Linked DNA regions of Homo sapiens: regions 1, 2 and 3 are each reported to be linked to region 4. Evidence: microRNA targets listed by miRTarBase, many of them from high-throughput screens and not tested one by one. Region 4 holds a microRNA gene; each other region holds the end of a gene's coding sequence. Distances are from middle to middle.

The links. Region 4 holds the annotated microRNA hsa-miR-31-5p (AGGCAAGAUGCUGGCAUAGCU, at 1,409-1,429, shown strand). A microRNA usually pairs through its seed, bases 2 to 8, with sites in the 3' UTR of a target mRNA and lowers its output. Matches are read on the target gene's strand: a 7mer-m8 pairs with bases 2 to 8, a 7mer-A1 pairs with bases 2 to 7 and ends in A, and an 8mer does both.
Region 1: the mRNA of FOXD4 is a reported target of hsa-miR-31-5p. Seed matches in the 3' UTR shown: 7mer-m8 at 774-780.
Region 2: the mRNA of RPL35A is a reported target of hsa-miR-31-5p. Seed matches in the 3' UTR shown: 7mer-m8 at 611-617.
Region 3: miRTarBase lists MLH1 as a target of hsa-miR-31-5p. The part of its 3' UTR that is shown has no 7-base or 8-base seed match.

Annotation. Positions count from the first base shown.
Region 1 is chr9:114,214-117,375 of GRCh38, reverse strand. FOXD4 (forkhead box D4) reads left to right here. Exons shown (of 1, transcript NM_207305.5): 1 at 1-1,145. The coding sequence ends at 576. Among named protein-coding and RNA genes, the nearest start is that of LINC01388, 2.0 kb to the right of the region's middle. RefSeq lists enhancers at 1-451, 2,223-2,829.
Region 2 is chr3:197,955,544-197,958,543 of GRCh38, forward strand. RPL35A (ribosomal protein L35a) reads left to right here. Exons shown (of 5, transcript NM_000996.4): 5 at 207-1,067. The coding sequence ends at 230. The region is part of intron 2 of DRC9 (dynein regulatory complex subunit 9); the gene reads right to left. Among named protein-coding and RNA genes, the nearest start is that of DRC9, 2.9 kb to the right of the region's middle.
Region 3 is chr3:37,050,390-37,053,544 of GRCh38, forward strand. MLH1 (mutL homolog 1) reads left to right here. Exons shown (of 19, transcript NM_000249.4): 19 at 97-457. The coding sequence ends at 264. It overlaps LRRFIP2 (LRR binding FLII interacting protein 2), which reads right to left. Exons shown (of 28, transcript NM_006309.4): 28 at 2,237-3,155. Among named protein-coding and RNA genes, the nearest start is that of MLH1, 58 kb to the left of the region's middle.
Region 4 is chr9:21,510,454-21,513,586 of GRCh38, reverse strand. It overlaps MIR31 (microRNA 31), which reads left to right and starts at 1,402; the gene lies at 1,402-1,472. All of the region lies in intron 1 of MIR31HG (MIR31 host gene), which reads left to right.

The DNA.
Region 1 (3,162 bases), 21 Mb from region 4:
ACCGGCCCCGGGAGACGCCCTTACGCTCTGCTGCACCCGCATCCTCCTCGCTACCTACTGCTCTCGGCCCCCGCCTATGCCGGGGCACCGAAGAAAGCAGAAGGCGCGGACCTGGCGACCCCGGCACCCTTCCCGTGCTGCAGCCCTCACTTGGTCCTCAGCCTTGGGAGGAGGGCAAGGGTCTGGCGTCGCCACCGGGAGGCGGATGCATCTCTTTCAGCATTGAGAGTATCATGCAAGGGGTCAGGGGAGCGGGTACAGGGGCTGCGCAGAGTTTGTCCCCGACCGCGTGGAGCTACTGCCCCCTGCTCCAGCGACCGTCAAGCCTGTCGGACAATTTTGCAGCAACAGCAGCGGCATCAGGAGGAGGACTGCGCCAACGGCTGCGCTCCCACCAAGGGCGCGGTGCTGGGCGGGCACCTGTCGGCCGCGTCGGCGCTGCTGCGGTATCAGGCGGTGGCAGAGGGCTCTGGGCTGACATCGCTGGCCGCCCCTTTGGGCGGAGAGGGGACCTCACCAGTTTTTTTAGTATCGCCCACGCCCAGTTCCCTGGCCGAGTCCGCAGGGCCCTCCTAGAGCCAGGTGGGAGTGGGGAGCGACCCGCAGCTGCTCACTCCACCTTGCGCGGCCCATACTGGGCGTGTGCATCTGAATCCCGCTGGAGAGCAAACACGAACTTCTGTTCCCTGCAAAATGGTTAGAAAGAAACAGCTGGATTACGTTCCTCTAAAAACCACCTGAACGTAACCTTCGCAGGGCGTCAAGTCATCTTTTCTTGCCTTCGGTTGTGGCTTCTGTGGCTTTCCCGATTTGCACATGTCCTGGGGTACTATGAACGTGAGTGGGGTATTTTGTTCTGGCATTAAAAGAAAAACAAGCAAGCAAACAAAAACACAGCCTCCGATGCCAAACATGTTCCCCCTTCTTCACTTCCTTGGAACTGGAAGTATTATTCCTAAGTCTAGTGCAAAATGCTTCTACTCTCTGTGTCTTCCTGATAGGGATGTTTAATGTAAGTAGGATATTAATTTCAGAACATTGATTTCTTATCTGTGTGTCTGACGTGCCATCTTTAATGTTAAAATTAAGGTGTTAAAATTAAGCCTAGTTATATAGACGAAATAAAATGCTAAGTCACTACACTACATCGTTTATTTTCTATTACGTCTCATTCTTCCCTTTCTAAATGGAACTTTTTAAAACCTACATTATTTTCCCTCAATTTATTTTCACAATTCATATTTATTATAGATAGCAGAAGTAATCCATTTTAATATGGCCTTTAAAAATTCCAAATATTTGAGGTTGAAAATGTCCTGGCTTTTAAAATAGGAAATTTACTATTTATGAGACTTCTAAAAGAATGAATAGGAGGGCATGTAAATATATTCTCCATTTATTTTTCCTCACCCCCCAACAAGCTGGAAAACCATTTGAGATCAATTTGGAATGTAGTGGCCAACATGTACTCAGGGAAAATAAAAGGCTATAAATATACATATATATATATATATATATATATATATATATATATATATATATATATATATATACACATTTTTTAAGCACTAGAATTTTCAAAACTTATTTCCTAAAAAAAAAACTCTGAAAAGACTTTGCAACTAGAAAGGTTTAAGTGTTACTCGGCGTCAGGGGACGGAGTGGGGGGAAACCAGACAAGAACGCCCATCATGAATTGCTCCCCACAAAGAAAACAAATTTCTAGGAACTTGGCCGTTTTCCCCTGTCCCGAGTGGGGTTCCCGATTCCGTGCCGCTTTGAGGGAAGCTGCTCTGTGAATGTGAGAAAGTTTTTCCCCCAGCCCCCATCTACTCCCCACCCCCAGCTATGAATTTCTTATTTCAGGAGGGAGGACAAACATGGAGACACATTTTTACAGGAGTCTAATTGGCCGATTTTTCTCCGGCTTCTCTTCTCCATCCCGTCTCTTGGAATTTCTTGGCATGCCCTACCTGAGATCCCCTACGGGAGATTTCCTCTTGGCTCCTGCGGTTCTGAGGACGTTCTGAAAAGTTCCCAAGCCCCATCTTTGGTAGCTGCCCAGACCCCAGCTTCCAATTCTTCCCTCTTCTTTGCACAGGCAGCCGTCAGCCCCATAGCCCCACCGGCGTCCAGAAGAGACCACTTTTAGCAAATCCGGCAGGGCTGGGGCAGTCTAAGAGTTTGGAAACAAACTGAGAATAGAGGGATCCTATGTCATGCCAGCTTCTCGCTGGTTTACGCTCCAACTCCCCTCTGTCCGTTGTGCGAAAACGTCTCCGGGCCGACCTTCCTTCATTTATTGCCAACAAACGTCCTGGGAGAGCGGCTACAGCCGCTGAACCCAGAAGGGACTTTCTCCAGGCTTTCTTGGCACCCTCCCAATCATCTTCCTTCTCTTGCCCGAGGGCAGATCACCCGGCTACGAACGTGGGTGACTGAGGGTCAGGCCCCTTCCCGGAACCGCCTCCAAGCTCCTAACTTTTGCCTAATGTGAAACCATATCCAAAGATGAATATTTAAACCATCAGTTCAGCGGCGGAGTAAATTGAACGTTATTCTCCGATCAAACAGGAGCTTCGGGTCCACCTGTTTGGAAGCTCCCAGGCGGCTTGGAGGGGTCCGGCCTTCGGGCGCGACCCGCAGGGGTTGCCTTGCCCGGCTCGCGGAACGGACGTTTACCCGTCGCAGCCACGAACCCACCAACGACACCAAGCACTGGCCGGGCAGACCAGGCGTCGTGGAGGCGCCCCAGCCCCCCAGCCCCCCGCAACGACGCGTCCCAGGGGTGCGCAGTGCTTGGCGCGGTGACCGGACCCGGCCGCCTTCCCGACCGCGCAGAGCGAGAGGCCACACCCTGGATCCCAGGCCGGGTCCCTGCGGTTCTGGGAGGGAGGTCCCGGACGCCTCCCAGATCTCGGGCTTCTGTAACCCCGAGGCCGGGTTTTAAAATCACGGCTCTTCCGAGTTACACGGAGAGTCCGTGGTCAAGGGTCAAGGGCGGCCTTCGACCCTCGGGATCGTCTTCTTGAGAAATGGCTGAGAGCTAAGCCTAGAGCTGCGCAGGGAAGGGAGCCAAAGAGCTGGCGCCGAGCGCGAAGGGCCGGGAGGCGCGGGGAGGCCCCTTACCCGCCCCACTGTCCTGCCCGCCAATGACGCCGA
Region 2 (3,000 bases), not on the chromosome of region 4:
GAGCCACAGCACCTGGCCAGTACATGTTTTTTATGAGTGCCGGTTCTTACGGTATGTTCACGTAGAGACTGAAGGCTATAAAAACTTTCCTTACCACTAGAACATGTAATTGGTAGCCTTTCAGAGATTTATCCGTATTACGGTTCTTGATTTGTAGACGTATATATAACATTCACCTAATGTTTTGTGTTCTTTTTTCCCTGCAGATGCTGTACCCCTCAAGGATTTAAACTAACGAAAAATCAATAAATAAATGTGGATTTGTGCTCTTGTATTTTTAAGTGGATTAAAAAACTTACTACCTTAAATTGATTTGCTACATGCTTAAAATGATAGAGGTTGCTCAGCATTTTTGGAGTACAAGGGGGTCAGAGAGACATGTGATGAAAATTACAGGGCGAGTACAGAGATTTAGAAGGGAACGGGTTTTAATGCGAGTATCTTTGACAGAGTCTTGCTCTGTTGCCCATGCTGGAGTGTAGTGGTGCTCGCTGCAGCCTCACATTCAAAGGCTCAAGCAATCCTCCCTTGGCCTTTGAAGTAGCTGGGACCACAGGCTCATGCCACCATCCCTGGGTCATTTTTAAATTTTTTGTAGAGAGGGTCTGACTCTTGCCTATGCTGGCTTCAAACTCCTGGGCTCAAGCAATCCTCCTTCCTTGGCCTCTCCTGAAGTGCTGGGATACAGTTATGAGCCACCACACCTGCCAAGTGCTTTGTGATACTATGCATTTGTTCAATGCAGATTGGGAAACTTAAAATTTGAATGGAGATTATGTTGATGGGCTTTGGCAGTTCATTTGGATAGACTGGGATGAGAAGCTCTTGGGACTTGTGACTGGACAAAGCATTCCAGTATATTAAAATAAAATTAAGCCATATTACTCCACTCATAAAAAGCAATCCTATGGTAGGTACATGGAGGTTGGGAATAGTGCACGGAAAGGTGGCAGCTTTCTTTGGCTTCATGTTTTAATCTGGTAAAGTTCAAGATTGCACTTTAAGCAGGCCTCCTAAATATTTTAGATTTCTTGGGGATATGCTAAAATAAAACAACTAAGGCATCAGTTTTGCTGTATGGTTTTTTTTTTTTTTTTGAAGACAAGGTCTTGTTTTGTTGCTTGGGCTGGAGTGCAGTGGCGTGATTACAGCTTACTGCAACCTCAACCTCAACCTCCTCGGCTCAGGCAAACCTCCTGCCTCAGCCTCCTAAATAGCTGGGGCCACAGGCATGTGCAGCCACAACCAGTTAACTTTTTAGTTATTTGTGGAGATGGGCCTCACTATGTTGCCCAGGTAGTACTACATTTCTAACTGATGCAGTAACAGTCTTTTTGTCTGCCCCCTGAGGGTTACTGATCTCTACAGCACAGGTAGTTTTTTAAATTAACATCTTTAAATTGCACTGAAAATGTCAACAAGAAACTGGGAGTTTGCCACCTAAGCCCTTTTGCAGTTTTGCAGCGTGTATGGGTTCTCTTGTCTATGCTGCAAAAGAATTAACATGCTGGAAATGTATTAGGATAAGAGGGTGAAAGAAAGGATTGGGTAGGAAAAGCACACTGGCTGTTGTGTTATTTGGTCTTCCATCTCCTGGAGACAGGACTGAGAAGGAAAGTTTTTGTAGTAAGGGAAAAGAGTGGGAATACTGTCCAGCTTTCCCACTTCCCCTTCCTCCAGTAACATCCTGTTACAAATCTGCTAACCTACAAAGAGGGTAGTGAGATATACTGACCCAAGAGAAAGCAAGACGCCCTCCCCCAGAGGTCCCTCTGTCACACTGGCAGTTCTAAGAAAGGTTTGGTCAGTCCAATGGTGGTATGCAAGCCAAAGCTGCCATTGTTGGAGTCCCGTGCTTCGTGGACATGGGCTTGTGTTAGTACTCTGCCAGGCTCATTTATTAGGATTGTGGTGGTTTTTTTTTTTTTTTTTTTGAGACAGTCTTGCTCTGTCGTCTAGGCTGGAGTGCAGTGGCGCAATCTTGGCTCACTGCACGCTCCGCCTCCCGGGTTCACGCCATTCTGTCTCAGCCTCCCAGGATTGTGGTTTTAAGGCAAACAAAGTGCACTGATGCTGTATTCACCAGAAGTGAGCAGTACTTCAAGGCCGGAAGTTGGAAGTTGTATATTAGAATGCTAATGAAATTGAACTTGGGAATTACGCAGTCAGCGCGAGGAAGTGCTGATCTTGGACACCCACTCCAAAAGGCCAACATAAGCTAAAAGTACCTACTGTGTTCATTGTGCCAGTTAAGTAGATGTGATCAGTAGTACTCGGGGTATTCAGGGATAGAGGCATGTAGGTATACTGGCTGCGTAACATAAAACCGTAAAGTGTAGAGGAAGAAATAGGGCGGCATCTCAAAGAGGAAATGGCAGGAAGATTTTAGGAACACAAGTGGCTGACTGGAAAGTCCAGAAAACTAAAATGCCACATGAGAGGTCTCCTGTACTGAACTGAGGATCTTAGGCTTAAGATTGTTCTTGAGTGTAATACAACGTCACTGAAGAACTTGATTCACAGGAAATTTTAAAATTTACTCATTTGAGACAGGGTTTCTGTTGCCCAGCCTGTAGTGCAGTGGTGTGATCATAGCTCACTGCACCTTTGAACTTCTAGGCTCAGACAATCCCCTGCCCACAACCTCCAGAGAATCTGGTGCATGCCAGGCACGTCCAGCCAATTAAAATGTTTTTTCGGGGTCCCAGGCTGGTCTCGATTCCTGGCCTCAAGTGATCCCCCTGCCTTGTTCTCCTAAAGTACTGGGATTACAGATATGAGCCACCAGCTCAGATTATTTCAAATCCCAATGGCATCCCAGCATAAACAAGGGAAAATTAGGTGGGCTTTTCAGTCTCAAATGGAGAATTCTAACATGTTTCTGGCTTTGGGGGCTGGATGGATAATGGTGCATTTACAAAGTTGGGGAATCAGGAGATGGTTTTGTGGGAGGAGCTAAAGTTGAATTTGAGGAAGCTGTAAGATGTTAACCTGTGGACA
Region 3 (3,155 bases), not on the chromosome of region 4:
AGTCTTTCCAGACCCAGTGCACATCCCATCAGCCAGGACACCAGTGTATGTTGGGATGCAAACAGGGAGGCTTATGACATCTAATGTGTTTTCCAGAGTGAAGTGCCTGGCTCCATTCCAAACTCCTGGAAGTGGACTGTGGAACACATTGTCTATAAAGCCTTGCGCTCACACATTCTGCCTCCTAAACATTTCACAGAAGATGGAAATATCCTGCAGCTTGCTAACCTGCCTGATCTATACAAAGTCTTTGAGAGGTGTTAAATATGGTTATTTATGCACTGTGGGATGTGTTCTTCTTTCTCTGTATTCCGATACAAAGTGTTGTATCAAAGTGTGATATACAAAGTGTACCAACATAAGTGTTGGTAGCACTTAAGACTTATACTTGCCTTCTGATAGTATTCCTTTATACACAGTGGATTGATTATAAATAAATAGATGTGTCTTAACATAATTTCTTATTTAATTTTATTATGTATATATTGTGTCAGTTCAGATGCCAAAAAGAGGTCTTGAACATGTCACAGGCTCTGATGGCACTGACCATGGAGAAAGCTTGATTTGATCATCTGGTGTCTACAATAACCAAAGCTAATTATTAAGGAAAAAAACTTGAAGAAAGAAAATAGTCCTTACTTCATCTATAATGAGGTTTTTGTTTTTTTGTTTTGAGACGGAGTCTTGCTTTGTTGCCCAGGCCGGAGTGCAGTGGCGCGATATTGGCTCACTGCAACCTCCGCTTACCGGGTTCAAGCAATTCTCCTGCCTCAGCTTCCTGAGTAGCTGGGATTACAGGCACCTGCCACCACGCCCGGCTAATTTTTGTATTTTTAGTAGAGATGTGGTTTCACGATGCTGGCCAAGCTGGTCTCAAACTCCTGACCTCAGGTGATCCTCCCACCTCAGCCTCCCAAAGTTAAGTGCTGGGATTACAGGCATGAGCCACTGCGGCCGGCATTAAGTATGAGTTTTTAAGTTAGCCCACTTTGTTAATGACTATGAGTACTAATAGCTTAAGATAAAGAAGTTTCTAGGTAATCTTGTTTGAAGGATGATGTAAAAATATAAATTTAAACTGTGAGTGACAAAATAAACTTCCTTAATATTTGCCTACATTTAGAGAAATGGAGCATTCAGCTCAGAAAGGAAGAATGTCTGTGGTTTTAAGGTAAAATCCATATTCCAAGACTCAGTGAAGAAAGTTCAGTGATAAAGAACAGACTACTCTCATCTTATGAAGAAATGGAGCAATTTCACTTGGAAAGACTAGGAAGACAAAATGTTACAGACGTATTTGTTGTGCCACAAAATAGGCAAGGTCAGTTTTGAACAATAAGAACTCCATAAAGTAGACCAGGGCATCTCAGAAGTGAGGTTCCATGAGCCCAGGTGGGGCACAGGCTGGGTGATCTTGAGTGGAGAGGAAGAGGGGTTTTCTGAGCTTCAAGAGCTGGGCCACACAGTGTGTTGGTTTTAGCTGGGATGGAGTTCTAGAACAAACCTGCACTTTAGAACACCTTTCTACCCACCCCCAACCACACAACTTGCTACTATTAGTAAATGTATAGGCTGAGGCACGGTGGCTCATGCCTGTAATCCCAACACTTTGGGAGGCTGAGGCAGGCAGATCACTTGTGGTCAGTAGTTCAAGACCAGCCTGGGCAACATGGTGAAACCCTAACTCTACTAAAAATACAAAAATTAGCAGGGTGTGGTGGCAGACACCTGTAATCCCACCTACTTGGGGGGCTGAGGCAGGAGAATCAAGCTTGAACCCGGAAGGCAGAGGTTGCAGTGAGCCAAGATCATACCACTGCACCCCAGCATGGGTGACAGCACGAGACTGTCTCTCAAAAAAAAAAAAGAGGCCAGGCACAGTGGCCCACACCTCTAATCCCAGCACTTTGGGAGGTTGAGGTGGGCAGATCACTTGAAGTCAGGAGTTCAAGACCAGCCTGGCCAACATGGTGAAACCCCATCTCTACTAAAAATACAAAAATCAGTCGGGTGTGGTGGTGCACACCTGTAGTCCCAGCTCCTCGGGAGGCTGAGGCAGAAGAATCACCTGAACCTGGGAGGCAGAGGTTGCAGTGAGCCGAGATCGTGCCACTGCACTCCAGCCTGGGTGACTGAGCGAAACTCTGTCTCAAAAAAAAAAGAAAGAAAATGTATAGAAAATCATCTCAATTCAGAAGATTGGTATCCATATTTTTTAAATGAAGGGCTAATTAAAAAAGGAACAAATATTAGAGATTTTATTCACTTTTGAGTTACCTTTTTAAAGTCTAGTTTTATTATCTTATGTGCCTTTAGTCACTAGATTTTCCCCCAATATATTTTCTGTGTAAGCACTTTAAAGATACAATAATCATTTCTATAAAACCACCTGGGTACTAAGAGCAAAAGAGAATCATAAATTCTGCAAAGTAGTTGCACTCCATGATTTTAAAAAAACCTCTTGGACAGGGTACCTCTAAAGGTGAAACTCAAGTCTTTAAAAGTTCTACATTCCAGATTGTTTTTCCTTGAGAAGGAGACAAAAGAAGAGGGATGTGGTTGCCATGATTTGTTTTAAAGTCTCCTATAACAAAATGAACATGTCAGTAGCCAATTGTGGTTGGCAAAAGGGTGTATTTAATAGAATCTGCAGGCAGATTTCCAATCTGCCTGCCCTGCCCTACCCTCCCCCTTTGGGTTTGTTTGAGGTTTCATTCCACAAATAAGCAGCAGATAAAATACTTTACAAGGTACAGCACAGTTGTATTGAAGAAAAAAAGGACCCAACTCTTACTTTAGGAGTATTAGGCCTGGACTTCCCCTGCCCCATGCAATAAAGCAAGTTTTATATACACTCCCCATATTTTTTTCTAACATTTTCTTATATAAATTTAAATATTTTACAAAAAAAGGCTTTTTTCCTCCAAACATATAAATCTGAGTGAAACATAGATTCCCCACCCGAGAACTTGTTTCTTCACTAAAATATAAATGTTGTCTGATATTAAGGGTAAATGTCTTTTGACCACTGGAGATCACTGAAGTCTGAATTGCACCGTGGAGAAGGCACTTGTGTTTTCTGAGGTCTCCAGCAAGTATCTCAGTGAGCACTCATAGAATTGCTGTCTGTCCTCCAGAACCCGTGCCAAGGCCTC
Region 4 (3,133 bases):
ACCAGGCTTAGGTAATGCTGGACTTTTGTTTCTGGCAAAGGCAATTGATACTAGAATCATATTTAAAAGAGTATGCTTCTTCCTTATCTATACCTTGGTAGCACTATATAACAAAATGTTTTACCTTTATAGGTTACCTTACACTCCATTTTGGGTAAATAATACGTATTACTTACTAGTTTTTTAATAGAGACATATTAAAGAGGAAAGCAAACATAATTTATAATCCTATCCAATTTTTTTATTTAAAATAATAAATTGCTCATTTATCCTTTAATAAAAAACATGTATGTATGCCCTCCAGGTATGTGTCTGTGTATACATTTTCACTTGCACAAAAGTTATACATAATGTCATTATTCTTATGCCTTACTGTTTTGTAAGGACCACCAAATATTCTGTTGTATAACTATATTATTTATTTAGCCTGTATCAATCATACTGATGAGTGTTCAAGTTGTCTCCAATCTTTTACTATTAAAAACAGTGTTGCAGTGAACATCCTTGGACCTAGAACTTAGTGGTACTTTTGCAAATGTACTTGTGAAATAAGTTTCTAGCTGGGAATTTTTGGCTCAAAAGAGCATTATTTTTGGCAGGGCATGGTGGCTCATGCCTGTAATCCAAACACTTTGGGAAGTGGAGGCAGGAGTATGGCTTGAGTTTAAGGGTTTGAGACCAGCCTGGGCAACATAGCGAGACCTTGTCTCTACTAAAAATACAAAAAAAAAAAAAAAGAGTGATGGCACACACCTGTAGTCCCAGTTGCTTGAGAGGCTAGGGTGGGAGGATTCACCTGAGCCTGGGAGATTGAGGCTGCAGTGAGCTATGGTCGCACCACTGCACTGTATCCTGGATGACAGAGCAAGAATGTCTTTAAAAAAATCCAAAAATAACATTATTTTTAAGAGCACATAAAGCAGTGAACTAACTACACACTGCTGAGCCACAGTTTGTTATTGTTTAAATACATCTGAGTGGCAGAAATTGACCAAGTAAAGTTATTAGAGTAAAAATAAAATTGTACTGAGAGTCACTGGGATATTTTGTGGACTATAAATATGGTGGTAATAGCCTATAATTAACTGTCATCAACTTTAGACATTATTGATTTAATAAAATTTTTGTCACAATTTCATCCCTGTGGTTTCACAAGTAGTCCATAAACATTCTCGAGGTTCATTTTAGATCAAAGACCATTAAAAAAATGGAACTACCCACAAACCTCCTGTGCCTAACTACATCTTCAAAAGCGGACACTCTAAGGAAGACTATGTTGTTATGATCAGAAATAAGTGCGCTTTCAATTAATGAGTGTGTTTTCCCTCCCTCAGGTGAAAGGAAAAATTTTGGAAAAGTAAAACACTGAAGAGTCATAGTATTCTCCTGTAACTTGGAACTGGAGAGGAGGCAAGATGCTGGCATAGCTGTTGAACTGGGAACCTGCTATGCCAACATATTGCCATCTTTCCTGTCTGACAGCAGCCATGGCCACCTGCATGCCAGTCCTTCGTGTATTGCTGTGTATGTGCGCCCTTCCTTGGATGTGGATTTCCATGACATGGCCTTTCTCACCTTCCTTACTTCCTGTCCTGCTATGTATTGTGTCCTACCATGAATTCACTCCATGCTAGCCACATTGGCCTGTATGGCTATTCCTTGGACACACCTAGGATGTTCTTGCCTCTTAGCTTGCCTACCTTTCTCTCATCATTTGGGCCTCAGCGAGGATATCATCTCCTCAGAGAAGCCTTCTGTGACCATGCTATCTAAAATACTCCAGCACTTCAGTCACCCTTTATCCCATTACTCTGCTTTTTCAGAAACATTGGTGCTCCCTGAAACGTATTTGTTTACTTGCTTAGTGTCTTTTCTCCCGCACTACCATGTAAGCTTCTTGAGGGTTAGGGACCTTGTTAGGGATAACCACTGTATCCTTAGAGTGTGACACATAGTAGGTTCTCAATACATATTTTTGAAACTCTACCCTGATGCAAAAGAGATATCAAATAATTATAGTTTTTGCATTATAAATGTCTTTGGTGAAATCCCTGGCACAAAACTAATAATAAAGAAATAAACAGATAATGTTGAGTTCTGGGCCTGCAAACCTAACTCTTTAAAGCAGTCACAGTAAATGTGTCATTGGATCCATAGACTTGTGGAAGTCAGCATATTTTATTGGGAAAAGCATGAGCTTCAAAGTAAAACTTATGGTCAAATCTCATTACTGGTGCGTTCTTAAGTCATTTAACCTCTGAGCCACAGTTTACACAAATGTAAAATTAGAGTAATAATAGTGACTCCATAGGACCCTCAAGATAAGGAAATAAGGTATTTTAGTCAGATGATTCTTATCACATGTCTAAAAATTTAGTGTCTCTAAAATTCTTGATATATGCATACCAGTAGACACTCAACACATTTATTTCACTACTAAGAAAAAAGTTTTCTTTAGTTAGAGACAAGGGATTTTATGTGAAATGTGTGGAAATTCTATGCCAGAACGATAGTACATGTAGAATTCTTTGTAAAGATAGAAATCTTGAGAGACCAAGGAGTTAATTGTCAAGGATCTCAAGTTCTTCTCCTGGTTAGTTCACATTCCTCATCTTCCTTTGTTTCTGGAGTTACTCATTATCTGTAGATCTCTTTTAAAAGTGGTTTTTACACATTCACTTTAAAGAGTAAGAATGTTCAGTAAATACAATTGTATTTTAATGTTTAATAAATACTAATGTTTAATAAATACTGTTTGATGTTTCATGTTTTTAAGCATTGAAGTTTTAATAAAAAGCTTTGCTTTTAATAAATAAAATTTCATGTTAATTTTAATGCTTTTCCAAGAAATAAAGTAGCAGTCACTATTCTCGATTGTCATTATTTATTATTACTCAGGGTATTAAAACATACAGAAAGATCACATTATACCTTCATTTCATGCCTCTTGGAGTATATTAAACTAAGCTGCTAATTTAACAAAAATGTGTAGCACAAAAGTGAGGTAGTTTTAGTCTACAACTTTTATAAGCATCTCTTTATATAAGGATAATTTGTTTAAAGACATCATTGTACAAGCTGATCTTGCCTATGAAGGCTTTTAAGAACTCACAAAACAGCTTTAGCTGAAAAT